Linked DNA regions of Homo sapiens: region 2 is linked to region 1. The links come from fine-mapping of genetic effects on gene expression. Tissue or cell type: whole blood. Region 1 holds a variant in brackets; the other region holds the start of a gene. All regions are shown on one strand. Distances are from middle to middle.

Evidence for each region. PIP is the estimated chance that this variant, and not a neighbour inherited with it, causes the effect.
Region 2: it holds the start of NXN, and the variant in region 1 is fine-mapped to the expression of NXN in whole blood (TOPMed, PIP above 0.99).

The regions. Positions count from the first base shown.
Region 1 is chr17:912,415-920,519 of GRCh38, forward strand. The region is part of intron 1 of NXN (nucleoredoxin); the gene reads right to left. Among named protein-coding and RNA genes, the nearest start is that of NXN, 63 kb to the right of the region's middle. RefSeq lists an enhancer at 6,115-6,632. The variant C/G (reference allele first, on the strand shown) is at 3,487.
Region 2 is chr17:975,158-983,262 of GRCh38, forward strand. NXN (nucleoredoxin) reads right to left here and starts at 4,619. Exons shown (of 8, transcript NM_022463.5): 1 at 4,162-4,619. The coding sequence starts at 4,521. RefSeq lists enhancers at 3,532-4,467, 5,892-6,186.

The sequences.
Region 1 (8,105 bases):
TGCCAAAGACACCGCATCAGATTACGCTCCCCCAACCACGCGGGAGAGACCCCGTCTACATCCTTGCCAACACTGTATGTTATCAAATGTTCCTTTTGCCAGTTTAATAATCACATATTTCAAAAGTTGTACTTCTTTAATTGCAAACAGAACCAGGCATCTTTTCATGTTTATGTGTCTTTCTCTGTTCAAATTCTTTACCCAAATTGATTTTAAAAGCTCTTTATGCATTAAGAAAAAAAACAGGCCAGTGGGCAGTGGCTCACACCTGTAATCCCAGCATGAAGATTACATTTGGGAGGCCGATGCGGGCGGATCACCTGAGGTCAGGAGTTCGAGACCAGCCTGGCCAACATGGTGAAACCCCGTCTCTACTAAAAATACGAAAAATTAGCCGGGCGTGGTGGTACGTGTCTGTAATCCCAGCTACTCGGGAGGCTGAGGCAGGAGAATCGCTTGAACCCGGGAGATGGAGCTTGCAGTGAGCCAAGATTGCACCACCGCACTCCAGCCTGGGCGACAGAGTGAAACAAGGAAAGGAGAAAAGAGAAAGGAAAGGACGGAAAAAAGAAAGAAAGAAAAGAAAAATAGCACTTTTCTCTGTCATATACGTTGGAAATATCTTTTCTCACCCTAGGGTTTATCATTTGATCTGGTTTCTGGTATTTTGGACCATATAGAAGTTTTATATTACAGTCATCTCTTTTATAGTCACCAATAAAATCTAGATTAATTCTCTGAACATAAATAGAGGCTAACTTCTTATTAGGAGAAGTAAAATTGAACAGAAAATTCATGAGTCACCAAAAATCCTTCCCGATTTTGTAAAATCTGGAAAAGCCAACAGTTGATCACCAAACCACTGCCAGCTCCCAAATGACAGAACTCATCCACAGAGCACCCCCACAGCCCAGGATGGCCCATTTTCTCCTGGAGTCTGAAAAGTCCATTCGCTTGTCAGTTTTCCAGAGTCTGGGAACCCTTTTTGCCTCTAGCGCTGGCTTAGCTGTTTCAACACAGAAGTGATCACAGATGAAGATGTCGGCCCCTGCCCACAGCAGAGACTCCTCAACACGACAGACAGAGAGCAACAGGCTGAGAAAGGAGAGTCGGTCAGTTTCCCAGAGACATCGTGGCACAACAGAGACCAAAGGAAAAGAGGATAAGGAGGCAGGTTCTCCACCTACCCCCACGTCCCCAGGCAATGCAGAGACCGGGAACCGATAAAGAGGCAGGTTCTCCACCTACCCCCACGTCCCCAGGCAATGCAGAGACCGGGACCCTTCTCAGATGACTTTTCTCTCCTGGCACCTGCTCTTTCTTATCCTTGTAGTAAAAGAGCAGACAAAAATGAAGCAGAAAAAAAATGTGTAAACAATTGCCCTTTCCATCTACACTGGCATAAACTCACTTACTTAAGTGCAAGGACATTCATTATAACGGCGTGTCCTCCCAAACTCGCGGAAGATTTTTATTTTATTATTTATTTTTATTTTTATTTTTGAGACAGAGTCTCGCCCTGTCGCCCAGACTGGAGTGCAGTGGCACAATCTTGGCCTACTGCAACCTCCGGCTCCTGAGTTCAAGTGATTCTCCAGCCTCAGCCTCCCGGGTAGCTGGGACTCCAGACACCCACCACCACACCCAGCTAATTTTTGTATTTTTAATAGAGACAGGGTTTCGCCACATTGGCCAGGCTGCTCTCGAACTCCCAACCTCAAGTGACTCACCTACCTCAGCCTCCCAAAGTGCTGGGATTACAGGCGCCCGCCACCACGCCCAGCTAATTTTTGTATTTTTAATAGAGATGGGGTTTCGCCACGTTGGCCAGGCTGGTCTCGCACTCCTGACCTCAGGTGACTCGCCTACCTCAGCCTCCCAAAGTGCTGGGATTACAGGCACCCGCCACCACGCCCAGCTAATTTTTGTATTTTTAGTAGAAATAGGGTTTTACCGTGTTGGCCAGGCTGGTCTCAAACTCCTGACCTCAGGTGATCCACCCGCCACAGCCTCCCAAAGTGCTGGTATTACAGGCACAAGCTACCACGCCCGGCCAGAAGGAAGATTCTTTTTAAGGCGAGAAGTATGCAATGAGACAGTAGAGGCAAGGTCAAAGGCAAACACCGAGGTCTGTAATTGGTAGCGCAAGCAAGGTTCCTAGAGGAGACAGGAATATACACAATTCAACAAACATGTATGAAATGCTACCTTGTGCTGAGCATCGAACCAGGCGGAGACAAAGATGAGGAGCAGAGACTCGCTTCTGACCTTCAAAGAGTCCACAGTCCATTGAGTGAGGTCATTAACTCAGCAAGCGAGTTAACAGGGAGCGTACCGTGATGTGGGAAGCAAGACTGTTGGGTGTAGAGGAGGCGGAGCTGGATGTGGGGAACCAGGGCTTCCCCTGGAGGAGCTGATGAGTGCGTGGAACCAACAGCACAGGCAAATAAAGCAAGCAAGTGAGATGAGTTTTCCTAAAATATTAAAGGGGGTGAAATCGCAGACACTTGTACTGGAAAAATTTCAGAGTTGATTTTTTTTTTTAGACAAAGTCTCGCTCGCCAGGCTGGAGTGCAGTGGTGCGATCTCGGCTCACTCCAACTTCTGCCTCCCAGGTTCAAGAGATTCTCCTGCCTCAGCCTCCCAAATAGCTGGGAATACAGGCACCCGCCACAACGCCAAGCTCATTTTTTGTATTTTTAGTAGAAATGGGGTTTCACCATATTGGCCAGGCTGGCCTCGAACTTCTGACCTCGTGATAGGTCCACCTCAGCCTCCAAAAGTGCTGGGATTACAGGCGTGAGCCACTGCACCCGGCCAGTTGAGGATTTTATAGTTGAGAATAAGTGGGATTATGATTAGCATGACCTCTAGGAATTCTTTCTCTCTTTCTTTCTGAGATAGAGTCTCACTCTGTCGCCCAGGCTGGAGTCATCTCGGCTCACTGCAACCTCCACCTCCTGGGCTCAGACAATCCTCCTGCCTCCGCCTCCCAAGTAGCTGGGACTACGGGAGTGTGCCATCACACCCAGCTAATTTTTGTATTTTTTTGTAAAGACTGGGTTTTGCCATGTTGCCCAGACTGGTCTCAAACTCTTGGGCTCAGGCAATCAACCTGCCTCAGCCTCCCAAAGTGCTGGGATTACAGATATAAGACACCACACCTGGACTCTAGGAAATTATTTCTAAGAAAGGAGTAAAAGTGAGAATGAATGAGTACATAGTGTAACGCTTCCGAGCTTTGGTGCAGGAGGAAAGTAAATAACAAGGATACCCCAGGGCTGGAAACTTGGCAATAAACCAAGAAGGCAGAGACCAGTTAGTGCAACACTAAAATGCCTGACCACTTATGGGGCCAGAGCTGGGGCTTCCAGGTGAAACTTCCCCTAAAATGGGCGGCCACTTATGGTGTCAGAGCCGAAACTTCCCCTAAAATGGGCGGCCACTTATGGTGTCAGAGCTGGAACTTCCAGCTGCTCCCCCTCT[C/G]CCAGTTCTTTTGTCCTTGTCCCTAGAGTTTTGGTCTCCAAGCAATCGGTTCTGTGTTTTTGTTTGTAGGCTCAATTTTAAACCACATTTTGTAAAGGCACTTCTCAAAAGGCAAAGATAAAAACACTGAAGCTCTTAAGAGCGCCTGTCTGGCTGCCAAGCCATTGTTCTACTCAAATGTCGAATGAAAAGGGAGAAACAGAATGATGATTGTATTTGAATTGCTTCCAAGGAAAAGTAACCTCCAGCAAAACTCTAGGCCCACTTTGCTAGAAATCCTGGCACGTCGGCAACAGAAATGGAGGCAGAAAATTGCATCTTTCAGAAAGCAGAGTATCAAACAGGAAAAGCCACAAGGAGTGAGGTGCTGTGAGGTTCCCGTGGTGCAGGATCCATTTTATCCTTTCTACTTCTTCCTGCTGAAAATGAGATTATTTAAAACAATTTAAAAGACAATTTTCCCTGCAAGGGGCCTTTTGGAAATGAGTCAAAGTCAAATCCCTTGTTTTACGTAAAATTAACGTATGACATTTCAAAGTTACCAAACTAAAAAAAAGGAAAATAAATATAAACACATTCCAAAACTTAAAAATGAAGGAGATTTCAGACAGTCCCTCCTGGTAAAATGTGAAATTGCACCCCAGCTGCAGTAGCTACTGTAAATATCCAAGGAATCAGTTTTAAGTGTTTGGGGATCCCAGGGATCCCTGCAAAGCACTCAGGATTTTAACATTAAGCTCACAAATTACAGCAGCTGGCCGGGCACGGTGGCTCACGCCCGTAATCCCAGCACTTTTGGAGGCCGAGGCAGGTGGATCACCTGAGGTCTCCACTAAAAATACAAAAAACTAGCCAGGTGTGGTGGCGGACATCTGTAATCCCAGCCACTTCGGGGGCTGAGGCAGGAGAATCACTTGAACCCGGGAGGTGGAGGTTGCAGTGAGCTGAGGTTATGCCATTGCACTCCGGCCTGGGCAACAGAGAGAAACTTCATCTCTAAAAAAAAATTACAGCAACCAACAGGCCTCTAGGTTAGTTACCACCCTAACCTCTTCGTTGTAAATTTTCAAACCACCTTGAAGGTGGGTATTTTTGGTGGGTCTTTATCTTCATTCATTAATCACATTATCAGACATTCCCTGTGTGTCCTGTTCTGTTATACATGCTGAAGCTACAAATCAAACATCCGCTTTGCCTCCAACAAGATTCCCTGTTCCTAAGTGAACCAAGGAATGAGGTGTTCCACGCCTGAGCTCACATCTTTTTTTTTTTTTTCTGTAGCCCAGGCTGGAGTGCAATGGCGCGACCTCGGCTCGCCGTGGCCTCCGCCTCGCGGGTTCAAGCGATTCTCCTGCCTCAGCCTCCCGAGCAGCTGGGACTACAGGCGCCCGCCACCATGCCCAGCTAATTTTTTGTATTTTTAGTAGAGACGGGGTTTCACCATGTTGGCCAGGCTGGTCTCAATCTCTTGACCTCGTGATCCGCCTGCCTTGGCCTCTGAAAGTGCTGGGCCTCTGAAAGAACAGGCGGGAGCCGCCGCTCACATCTTTACTCATGAACCTAAACTCACAGAGCAGCCCCACACTGTCGTCTGTGGAAACCACACCAGCTCCTCCTCTTCCTTCTGGACCTGCTGTCCCACCCTACGCCCATTTTTTATCTCCACCCACTCTTTGAACTTAGCACTGGTGTCTACAGGCTCGATTCCCAGCTCTCCCACAAGGACGTGGCTCAGACGCACGTCACCATCTCAACCCAATGTAGGCCACCCGCTGCAGGCGAGCTTCCCTACCCAATCCGACCTCCTAGACGGACACCCCAGGTTCCAGCCCTACAAGGGGCGCGTACTGGCACAACAGGCGGGCGTGGCTCTCGCTCCCCAGGAAGGCCTCGCAGAGGTGGGGACAAGGGCGGATGGGAAAGGGGATAAGCGACAGGAGAGGGGGGACTCCCGTTCCAAACAAAGGGGACTGCGTACTGGTGAAGAAGAATGTGGTCTGTATTCAGTTTTGTTGACAAGAACCCCTAATGGATAATAATAAAATGTTTACTGAGCTCGTACTTTATGGAAGACACATGGCTCACGGCAGGGCCCGGCACATCACAAAAACTCACTCCGTATTTGCAGCATAAAGGAAATCTCAGTTTCAGTTTTAAAAGTTGTGTGTCTAAACCAGAAAATAACTCATAACATGATCCTACTAAGAAGATGGGCCAAAAACAGACAAAAGAAACACGAGAACACTCAATATCACCTCCCCCAAAACAACACAGCATTTTCCTCCTGTAATCAAACAATCACAAACCAGGCTGTGCTGGGCCTGGCCGTTGTGCCAGAAACAGCCCCAGAACCCTGGGCCCAAAGGGGTCTGGTCTTGATTAAGATTATTTTCCTTTGTAACGTTCGGTTTGGAGGAAAAGGCGGGAGGGTCGGAAGGAAATGGGAGGAGCGCACGATCCATCAGCGAGTTTCATCGCAGCGTTTCATCTCCTTCGTGAACTGGGCTCAGGGAGGCCGTGACTCCCATTTCCATTTGGCTCCCGAGTCAATCACTCACTTTCATTCCAGCTACTTTTTGTCTTAATTTCTTGACTTAAAAAGGGTTTGGTTGAGGCCGGGCGCAGTGGCTCATGCCTGTAATCCCAGAAAGTGAGGCCGAGGCGGGCGGATCACCTGAGGCCAACAGTTCAAGAGCAGTCTGGCCAACACGATGAAAACCTGTCTCTACTAAAAATACAAAAATTATCCAGGCGCGGTGGTGGGCGGCTGTAATCCCAGCTACTCAGGAGGCTGAGGCACGAGAATCGCTTGCACCCGGGAGGCAGAGGCTGCAGTGAGCTGAGATCGCGCCACCGCACTCCAGCCTGGGAGACAGAGACTCAGTCTCAAAAAAAAAAAAAGGCCGGGGGTGGGGGGGCGGGTGTTTGTTGAATCCTTGGTGAATTTAAGGACTCAGAAAACAAAGTAAGTTAAACTACGTTTCCACAGCCTCCTTCCTCATTAAAAATGTCTCTGCAGCCAGGCAAGGTGGCGTGCGCCTGTAGTCCCAGCTACTCGGGAGGCTGAGGCGGGAGGATCACTTGAGGCCAGGAGTTTGAGGCTGCAGTGAGCTATGATTGCACCACTGCACTCCAGCCTGGGCAACAGAGTAAGACCCTATTGCTTTAAAAAAAAAAAATGTTTCAGCCAGGCTCGGTGGCTCACACCTGTAATCCCAGCACTTTGGGAGGCTGAGGGTGGATCACGAGGTCAGGAGATCGAGACCATCCTGGCTAACATGGTGAAAGCCCGTCTCTACTACAAATACAAAAATCAGCCGGGCGTCATGGCGGGCACCTGTAGTCCCAGTTCCTTGGGAGGCTGAAGCAGGAGAATAGCTTGAACTAGGGAGGCAGAGGTTGCAGTGAGCCGAGATTGTGCCACTGTACTCCAGCCTGGTGACAGAGTGAGACTCTGTCTCAAAACAAAACAAAAAAAAGGTTCTGGAATGATTATTCCAATTAAACAGCTTTTATTACAATACTCTGTCAATGCAGGGCAATCATTCCTTAAGATGCTAGAAAACGTGTTATTGTAACACGAGGAAAAAGCCCTGTAATCTCAGCACAACCAGAAATTAAAGTGGCAGTTTTGGGAGGACGCAGTCAAACGGCTTTCTACAGCACCTCCTCGTATCGTGGGTTACAGAACCTACGTCGTCCTCGGAATCCCCGCATTCGTCCCACGCGGCCCTCAGACACGGGCTCTGGTTCAAGGTGGGAGACAGAGACAACACCAATCAGCCCTTACCAGGCAGTGCGTGGCTCCAGAACAACAACTGAAAATAATATTGGAACGCAGTCCAGAAAATACAACTAGGGGCAGAGCGGTCCGGCACAAAACACCAGGAAACGCTCTCCCTTCCATCATTCAATCTTGGCGGACCACACTGGTATGCGACCTCATCTAGCTACATAGCTACACCTCCCTCTTGTCACCTTGCAGACTGGTATTCACTAACCCCCAGGCCATGGCGGAAAATGTACCTTCCATCTCTCTCTGCCTCAGCCCCCACCGGCACCCTTGGTGCCTTCATCACCCATCCAGAGCAACTACCCACTTCCACGGCCTCCTCCATGTGAGGACCTCCGCCTCCAACTCTCTTCGAGCCACCACGCGGTGCAAATGTTTGTATTTTTGGTGGAGACAAGGTTTCGCCATGTTGCCCAGGCTGGTCTTGAACTCCTGGGCTCAAGCGATCAGCCCATCTCAGCCGCCCAAAGTGCTGGGATGACAAGCACGAGCCATCACGCCCAGTCTACACCCCGAAATCCAACATTACAAACTTATCAATGCTGCCTCCTGTCATCTCCCCCCGCCCCTGGCTCCCGCTTTGACCTGGAGGAATCTGGCAACGTCAACATCAAGTGATTGTTCAAATTCAGCCAAGGGGGCCGATGAGGTGCCCATGTGGCTCTCCTCCCAGCCCCGAGCGCCTGGGGATACCTAGGCCCTCCTGTCATGCCCCAAGGCCAATGTAGCCTTGGGGATGCCGAGCCTGCCTGATCCCAATTCCTCCAGCGTTCTCCTCCCAGGGTTCCGCTCCCTCCCCAAGTGACCAGCCCTCACCAGCTCACTC
Region 2 (8,105 bases), 63 kb after region 1:
AAGACTGGCCCAAGTCCTAGAAACACAGTCACCAGTGGGAGCCTGTCCTGGCTGGTCCGGGCTTCTTATGAAGAAGGCAGAAAATCCTAATTTTCAAATCTGCACCTTTTTGCCATCTTTTCCCACCTTGAAAGTGAATGCAAAGAAAAGATACAGTGGTGTCACAGCAACTGTTCTCTTCCTGGCTGCAGTGTTTGGATTCAAGGAAGAGTGGCAGAGCTGGAGTTGTAAGAATGTTGAGGTTGCTACCAAATCCTGTCCCACCCATAGGGCCAAAGGGATTCAAGTAAATTCTCAGCCAAGCTTCTCATTGAGTCTGAACTGAAAGAACCACCCAGAGCAGCCAGAGTGAGACTCCACTTCCCCTGGCTGGAGCAGGCTGACCAGGGATACTGGACCAGGGTCCCCTGACTCTGCAGACTTTCTCTTCCCCTTTGTCATGCAGGAAGTCCTGGGGCCACACCAGAGCCTCACAAAACTGTCCAGAGGAAGCCAGTGGTCTGCACCCTTGGATGTCAGTGCACCCACACTGACCATATGTTTTTGATCAGGCATCCAGCCCAGACAAAGTTGAGCTCTGCGACTTTAACACCAAAAGAGTGCTCACTTCTATGAGGCTGAAGTGGATCCCGGAGACGGACCTCTCCAGTCTTGACGAGTGAGTAACATACTAATCCAAAGGGAAGACCAAATCCCCAAAGTCCAAATTTCACCACCTCCTGACTATCGATCACATTCCTTCTCTCTAGAAATGTGAAAATCATCTACCAACCTACTTATTAAAACAAGTCTAACTGCCTTAACTTCAGGATTATAGATTTGCTGATGAAATTGTTATAAATGCTCTCAAAGTTCTATTACCATCTAATTACAATTTATGCACAGCTATATAATAATGTGTGTTTTGGAAGCTGAAATAATATGTGTTTTGGAAGCCAAAAAAATTAAGCTTCAATTACTTTTGTACCTACCATGACAACAGGCAGAAACAGGACAATTTTGTATAAAGAATGTTTTTTTACATTTTTGTCCTTTTTTTTTTTGGTGTTTTCTCACAGTTCCTGTCAAGGTGAGAGGAACCAGGCAAAATGCAGGCTTAACATATACGGTCATCCCCAGGTTTTTTTTAACTATATAAAGGAGAAATTAATAAAAGAAAAAAAGAAATACCACACAGCATTTTCTTTCCCCACCATAATTTTTCAATTTTCTTTAGAGAAATGCCAGCCAATAACTAATTAGAACCATACCCTTTGTTATCCCAATGGGAAGAAGTATACGCATGGGCTTAAAGAACAAATGTTAATGAGAATTTAAAAAAAATTAGCAATCTGGAACTCTGGTTTCCCTTCAGTGTAAAACAAAATTCCCTTCTCTAGAGTTATTTTTATCATTGGCGAAATGACACGGATAGAGTCCATCCACAAGACGTGTTCACCCATCCAGTGCCCTCAGCTGGGAGAACTCCGGCTCTTCACTTGTTCTGATGGGGAAATTAGCATCATTAGCTCACGGGCTTCTAAGCACCCTAACTTCAAATGAGACAAAAACTCAGTTACAGAAAAGGCATTTGTTCCACATCTCTTTGGTTTCAAGGGGGAAAATAATTCCTTTTTTTTTTTTTTTGAGACAGAGTTTCGCTCTTGTTGCCCAGACTGGGGTGCAATGGTGCGATCTCGGCTCACCGCAACCTCCGCCTCCCAGGTTCAAGCGATTCTCCTGCCTCAGCCTCCCTAGTAGCTGGGACTAGAGGCATGCGCCACCAGGTCTGGCTAATTTTGTATTTTTAGTAGAGACGGGGTTTCTCCATGTTGGTCAGGCTGGTCTGGAACTCCCGACCTCAGGTGATCCGCCCACCTCAGCCTTCCAAAGTGCTGGGATAACAGGCATGAGCCACCGCACCCGGCAATAATTCCTTTTAAAATCAGCACGTAGCTTTTGTAATTTCCAAGAGTATGTGTTCCATAAGAAGGACAGCTGGAGTCTTTTTACCTGGTATATATCCCCGAGAAAGATCTTGAGTGGTTTGTTCACGACCAAGGAAAGAAACTACCTCCTTGAAAACTGGACTGGTTTTAGAGAATAAAGTATAGGATGTGAGTCAGAAAAACTCTGGGCCAAAAAATAAAATGTTTAAGATGCTAACGCACCAGGGTTTGGGCACGTCCAGCACTCTCAACGGTATTTTCAAATGAGAGTCTGCCCTGTGTCATCCAGGTTCTCATCATGGAGGAATCAGCAGGTCCAGGCTAGGGCCGCAGAATACTTTTTGTCATGCAAAGAGCCTGTCCAGGGTATAGAGAGCCAGCCATGGCCCATGTCCTATCAAATATTCTCCTTTTTCGGAAAAAGCTCTAAGCATTTGCAAAACATCTGTTTGCTCCATATTTTTACTATCCAAAAAATGTATTTCCTCTTCAGTAAAAAACACAACAATAGGCTGTTAAGCCTGTAACATTTTACCATAATTCTATGTTTTCAAAAGCTAGAAATCATTTGTATTGCCGGATAAGGACATTATTTTAAGTAGACTTTAGTCTACAACAGAAACTTGCCGTAACAATGAAAATGTTTTTTGGCAAATCCCTTTCTGAACATTATTTCTCCACGAACGTATCACAAAAACCACCACCAAGGAAAACAAAGGATTCTCGTATTTTGAATCAAAAAGTACTGGCCATGCATATTCATACTATATCAAGCATGTCAATCAAAATGGGCAAAATAACCTAAAAAGCAGTAAAAATGCCAACTCTTGCCTCTGAGTGGTTAGTGAACCTATGTTTTCCCAATATGAAATTTACAAACTGCATCGGATCAACTGTATTTCATACTTTAAATCTCGAATCTCTACCTCCCACTGCTTCGGGATGGATGATTTACTCAAGACATTTGGGGTCACAGTGTAAGCCTTTTGCTCCCAGTAAATCTAAATCATGCTTCTCAACAAGATTCTGCACATATAAAAGGAACACGTGGCACGCCTCGCCATGCTCCCCAGAGGAAACTAAACGCCCCCAGAATAGCCCTTCTGTCCACTCCAGAAACAGGCTTTCCTCAAAAAGGGAAAGGGGCTGGATTCACACGTTGCATCATATACACTCACGAAGCAACAGCGCTCCAAAACTTTTTCTGACTCCATTCATTACAAAATGTCCTGGATGTGCTTTATTATCACAGAGACAGACATCCTCACCCAAGGGACACACTCAGAAACCCAAACTCAACTCGGCAGCAAACTGGGAGACACGAGAAGTTGACAGCAAAGTATCCATTTCCCCAAATCCTCCTTCTTCCAGTCAATGTGCATCGATGGGGTCAGCTCAGCCCTTAACTCGAAGACCCCGGGACCACAGGGGCCACCACGCAGCTGAGCTCTGCACAGCCCGGGCTGTTCCCGCGCCCGGGAGGCGTCTGGGGAGGAGGCTGGACGGCCAGACAATGCAAAGCTCCCCGGTGGCCGCGAACTCAGCCTGGGGCGGGGGAGGCGGGGGCGGGAGACGGAGCCGTGAGCGCCCTTCTCGGCCACAGCCACGGCCACGGTCACCGGCCGCCTCTCCTGACCTCGGCCTCGGCCCCCAGGTCCCCGGTCCCCGGGGAAGGGGCTCCGGGAAGGCAGGTTTCTCCCGGAAAGAAAGGAAACGCGCTGGTTTGGGCGCCACGGGCGGGGGGCGTGCGCCCTCCCCTCCCCTCCCCTCCCCACTGTGGGAATCCGCGGGGGTCGGCGGCGGAGGCAGGAAGGGCCTGGCGCCTCTGCTCGCGGGTGAAGGGGTCGCGGAACCGGGATCCCCGAGCGCAGCCGCCCCCACCCGAGGCTCCCAGCGTGTGCGGACGGAGGGGCTCGAGCCGGGATCCCGGGGGCCGAGGGGGGTCCAACTTTCCAGGGCGGGCGCAGCGCAGCACTCGAACCAAAGAGGGGTCCTGGGATGAGGGTGCGGGCACAGCGCGGAAGGGGGGGGGGCAGAGGCGGGGACGGCGGGGTGGGGGGCGGGGAGAGGACAGTGGGTCGGGGGGCGGGGGACTGGGGGCAGGGGTCGGGGGGTGGAGGGCGGGCAGGGGGACAACGGGGTTGGCGGAGGGCAGGGGTAACGGGCGTGGGGGGCGGGCAGGGGTAACGGGCGTGGGGGGCGGGCAGGGGCCGGCGAGGCCCGCGCCGCTCACCTTCCTGTGCTTCTCCTTGTAGGGCAGCGCCAGCCACGGCATGTCCCGCACGAAGTCCTGCCACTGCCGCTGGTCCTGGTCCGAGGACACGAAGACGATCTCCAGGCGCCGCCGCGGCTCGGGCTCCGCCGCCGCCCCGGCCCCCGCTCCCGGCCCCGGCCCGGCCGCCGCGTCCCCCCGCAGGCGCCCGTAGAAGGCGGCCAGGCTGGCGCTGAGCTGCGCGCAGGGGGCGCTGAGGCTGCAGCCGAAGTAGAGACCCAGCAGCGAGATGCCGCGGGCGCCCAGCGAGTGCACGTCCACCTCCTCGCCGCCGCCCGTCACCAGCTTCTCGCCGAGCAGCTCCTCCAGGAAGCCCGACATCCTGGCCCACCGCAGGGCGGGCAGGCGGCTGCGACCCCGCTCCACGGTCCGCGCGGCGGGAGGAGGCGGCGGCGTCGGCGGCAGGCGCTGGGGAGAGCAGAGCCCGGCCCAGTAGGGCCGCCCACGCCACGCCCCCTCCGCCTGCCCGCGCCACGCCCCTTCCCCCGCCCTGCCACGCCCCCTCCGCGGCCCGCGCCACGCCCCTTCGGCTGCCCTCGCCACGCCCCTCCGCCCGCCCTCGCCACGCCCCCTCCGCCCTCGCCACGCCCCGTTTGCGGCCGGCGGTGGCCAGAGCTCTCCGCCCAGGCGGGGTCCGCAGCTGCCGGCCGCGGTGCGCGGGGTGACTGCTTGGGCGAGAAGCCGGACCCGAAACGCCGCACTCTCCCTGGAAAGCCCACGGCCGAAGTGAAGAAAGGAGAAGGGCCCGCTGAGCCGGCGCTTTCCCGGGCTGCAGCCCGGCCCGCATTTTCTCTCCTCCCCAGTTCTAAATTCCCTCCAGACCTCCAGGGATCCCGCCCCCTCCCCGCGGAGCTCTTCACCCTCTTCCTGTTCCTCCCCGGCCTTTCCCTCCTCCTCTCCCTGCACGAAGCCTGACCCTTAGGCCGCTCCGGGCCCCACTGACCCTGAGATGCTTATAGGACCCGCCGTCCTCACTGCATCAGGCCGGGCCTGGCTGGACACTGACTCCTCTGTGTGTTCCAAGCTGTTCTAAGGGGGCCGAGGACGCCCTCGCAGCTTCTGGTGGGGTCTGGTTAGGGTGCCAGGTCTCAGTGTGGGATTTCCGTCCAGGGGTCGCCGGGGCCTCTCCCCCCAGCGAATCTGTCTTCCAGCCCCACAAATGGATGCAAAGGACGCCGCGGGGCCTCCAGACCAATGCTGGCCGCGCTCCTGAATCCGCTCCATCCTCATGTCAAGTCTATGGATAGTTGAGAACATTTCTAGAGATTTTTTTTTTCCTACCAGCTGGCAGGATGCTCCCCAATGCTTAGGGAGAAGCTGGATTAAACAGGTGGTCTGGGCCGGGCGCGGTGGCTCACGCCTGAATTCCCAGCACTTTGGGAGGCCGAGGTGGGTGGATCACAAGGTCAGGAGTTCGAGACCAGCCTGGCCAATATGGTGACACCCCCCCCCCGCCTCTACTAAAAATACAAAAATTAGCGGGGTGTAGTGGCAGGCACCTGTAATCCGAGCAACTCAGGAGGCTGAGGTAGGAGAATGGCGTGAAGCCGGGAGACGGAGGCTGCAGTGAGCCGAGATCGCTCCATTGCACTCCAGCCTGGGCAACAGAGCAAGACTCCGTCTCAAAAAAAACAAAAAAACAGGTGGTCCGTGGCGAGTACTCTGGCCACGCAGCGCCTCCCCCCAACCCAACCCACTGGTGCACGAAGCAGGTGCAGATCCGGGCCCAGCCACAGTAACAGGCCGCCGGTGTGGATCAGCTACTGACGACTCAGCGAAAGCAAAAAAATAAAAGCTGAAAACCCGCCCCTCTCAGAGCTTCCACCGCCGCTTCGGAGGATATTTCCTGTGCATCCATCGCCACCTAATGGAAAGAGTGAAAAATGAGGCCGACCAAACTCCATTTGTGAAAAGACACTGCCGGGACACCAGGCACAATGCTTTTATTTTACAGCAGCTTTCCACATACACAAATGATAGGACGCTTTGCGGGAGCTAATTTAAACCTCAGAATAGAACTTCAAGCTTTTGGCACAAAACGTAAGTGTTCACATCGAAGGTTCTCCGTTTTTCTAGGGTAGAATAAGGAATGGTGCAGGGTTCCAGCTTGGTGAAATGTTACCATATAAAACAATTGGGAGAGGTGGAGATGGGAGCGGAAAGTGGACTGGCGTCTCTACAAGTTATATCCACTTCCTTAGTCACCTGCTGGTATTGCTAATGACACAGGTAAGATCTTAGATGGAGGACCGCCTTCGAACACCCTAGAATCCTACTGCAAAGTCGAATTCCACCTTAATTCTCAGGAGACTTTCATGCTGAAAGTCTGTGCCACTGTAGGGACAATATTATAAAACACACACAGAAAGCATCACTTTTTAGTGAAAACTTTATTTATTTATTTATTTATTTATTTATTTATTTTGAGACAGTGTGGGCGGCAGGCCACCCAGGCGCTGAGGCAAGAGACCGAGGACACAAGCCGTTCCAGTGTAATAAAATATAAAATAAGAATAGTTATACCAGATATAGATCTTAGATAGGCTTATATATGAATATCATTAATCATTAGTTTGTAGCAATTACTCTTTATTCCCATATTATAATGATCCTCGCTCTATAATCATAATCTAGGGAAAACCAGGCCATACAGAGATAGGAGCTGAGGGGACATAGTGAGGAGTGACCAGAAGACAAGAGTGCGAGCCTTCTGTTATGCCCAGACAGGGCTACCAGAGGGCTCCTTGGTCTAGCGGTAACACCAGCGTCTGGGAAGACACCCGTGGCCAGGCGGACTGTGGTGTAGCGGTAGCGTAAGTGTCAAGGAAAAACACCCGCTACTTAGCAGACCGGGAAAGGGAGTCTCCCTTTCCCCGGGGGGAGTTTAGAGAAGACTCTACTCCTCCACCTCTTGTGGAGGGCCTGACTGCAGGTTCGCCCACAATTATCCGGAGGCCTAACTGTCTCCCTGTGATGCTGTGCTTCAGTGGTCACGCTCCTAGTCCGCCTTCATGTTCCATTCTGTACACCTGGCTCTGCCTTCTAGATAGCAGTAGCAAATTAGTGAAAGTACTAAAAGTCTCTAATAATGGTGGAAGCTGTTTCTCTCTTTGTCTCCTCTCTCTCTCTGCCTCGGCTGCCAGGCAGGGAAGGGCCCCCTGTCCAGTGGACACGTGACCCACATGACCTTACCTATCATTGGAGATGGCTCACTCTCCTTATCCTGCCCCTTTGTCTTGTATCCAATAAATATCAGTGCAGCCTGGCATTTGGGACCACTACCGGTCTCCGCGACTTGGTGGTAGTGGTTCCCCAGGCCCAGCTGCCTTTTATCTCTTTGTCTTGTGTCTTTATTTCTACACTCTCTCGTCTCCGCACACGGGGAGAGACCCACTGACCCTGTGGGGCTGGTCCCTACAGACAGAGTCTCACTCTGTTGCCCAGGCTGGAGTGCAGTGGTGCGATCTCAGCTCCTGCAACCTCTGCCTACCAGATTCAAGTGATTCTCCTGCCTCAGCCTCTCGAGTAGCTGGGATTACAGGCATGCACCACCTCCCAAATAGCTGGGATTACTGGCATGCACTAATTTTTTTGTTTTGTTTTGTTTGTTTGTTTTTTGCAACAGAGTCTTGCTCTGTTGCCCAAGCTGGAGTGCAGTGGCGCGATCTCGGCTCACTGCAAGCTCCGCCCCTCCAGGTTTAAGCAATTCTCTGCCTCAGCCTCTGGAGTAGCTGGGATTACAGGCGTCCGCCACCAAGCCTGGCCAATTTTTTGTATCTTTAATAGAGACGGGGTTTTCACCATACTGGCCAGGCTGGTCTCAAACTCCTGGCCTCAAGTGATCCACCCGCCTCAGCCTCCCAAAGTTCTGGGATTACAGGCATGAGCCACCACCCGGCCTTGGT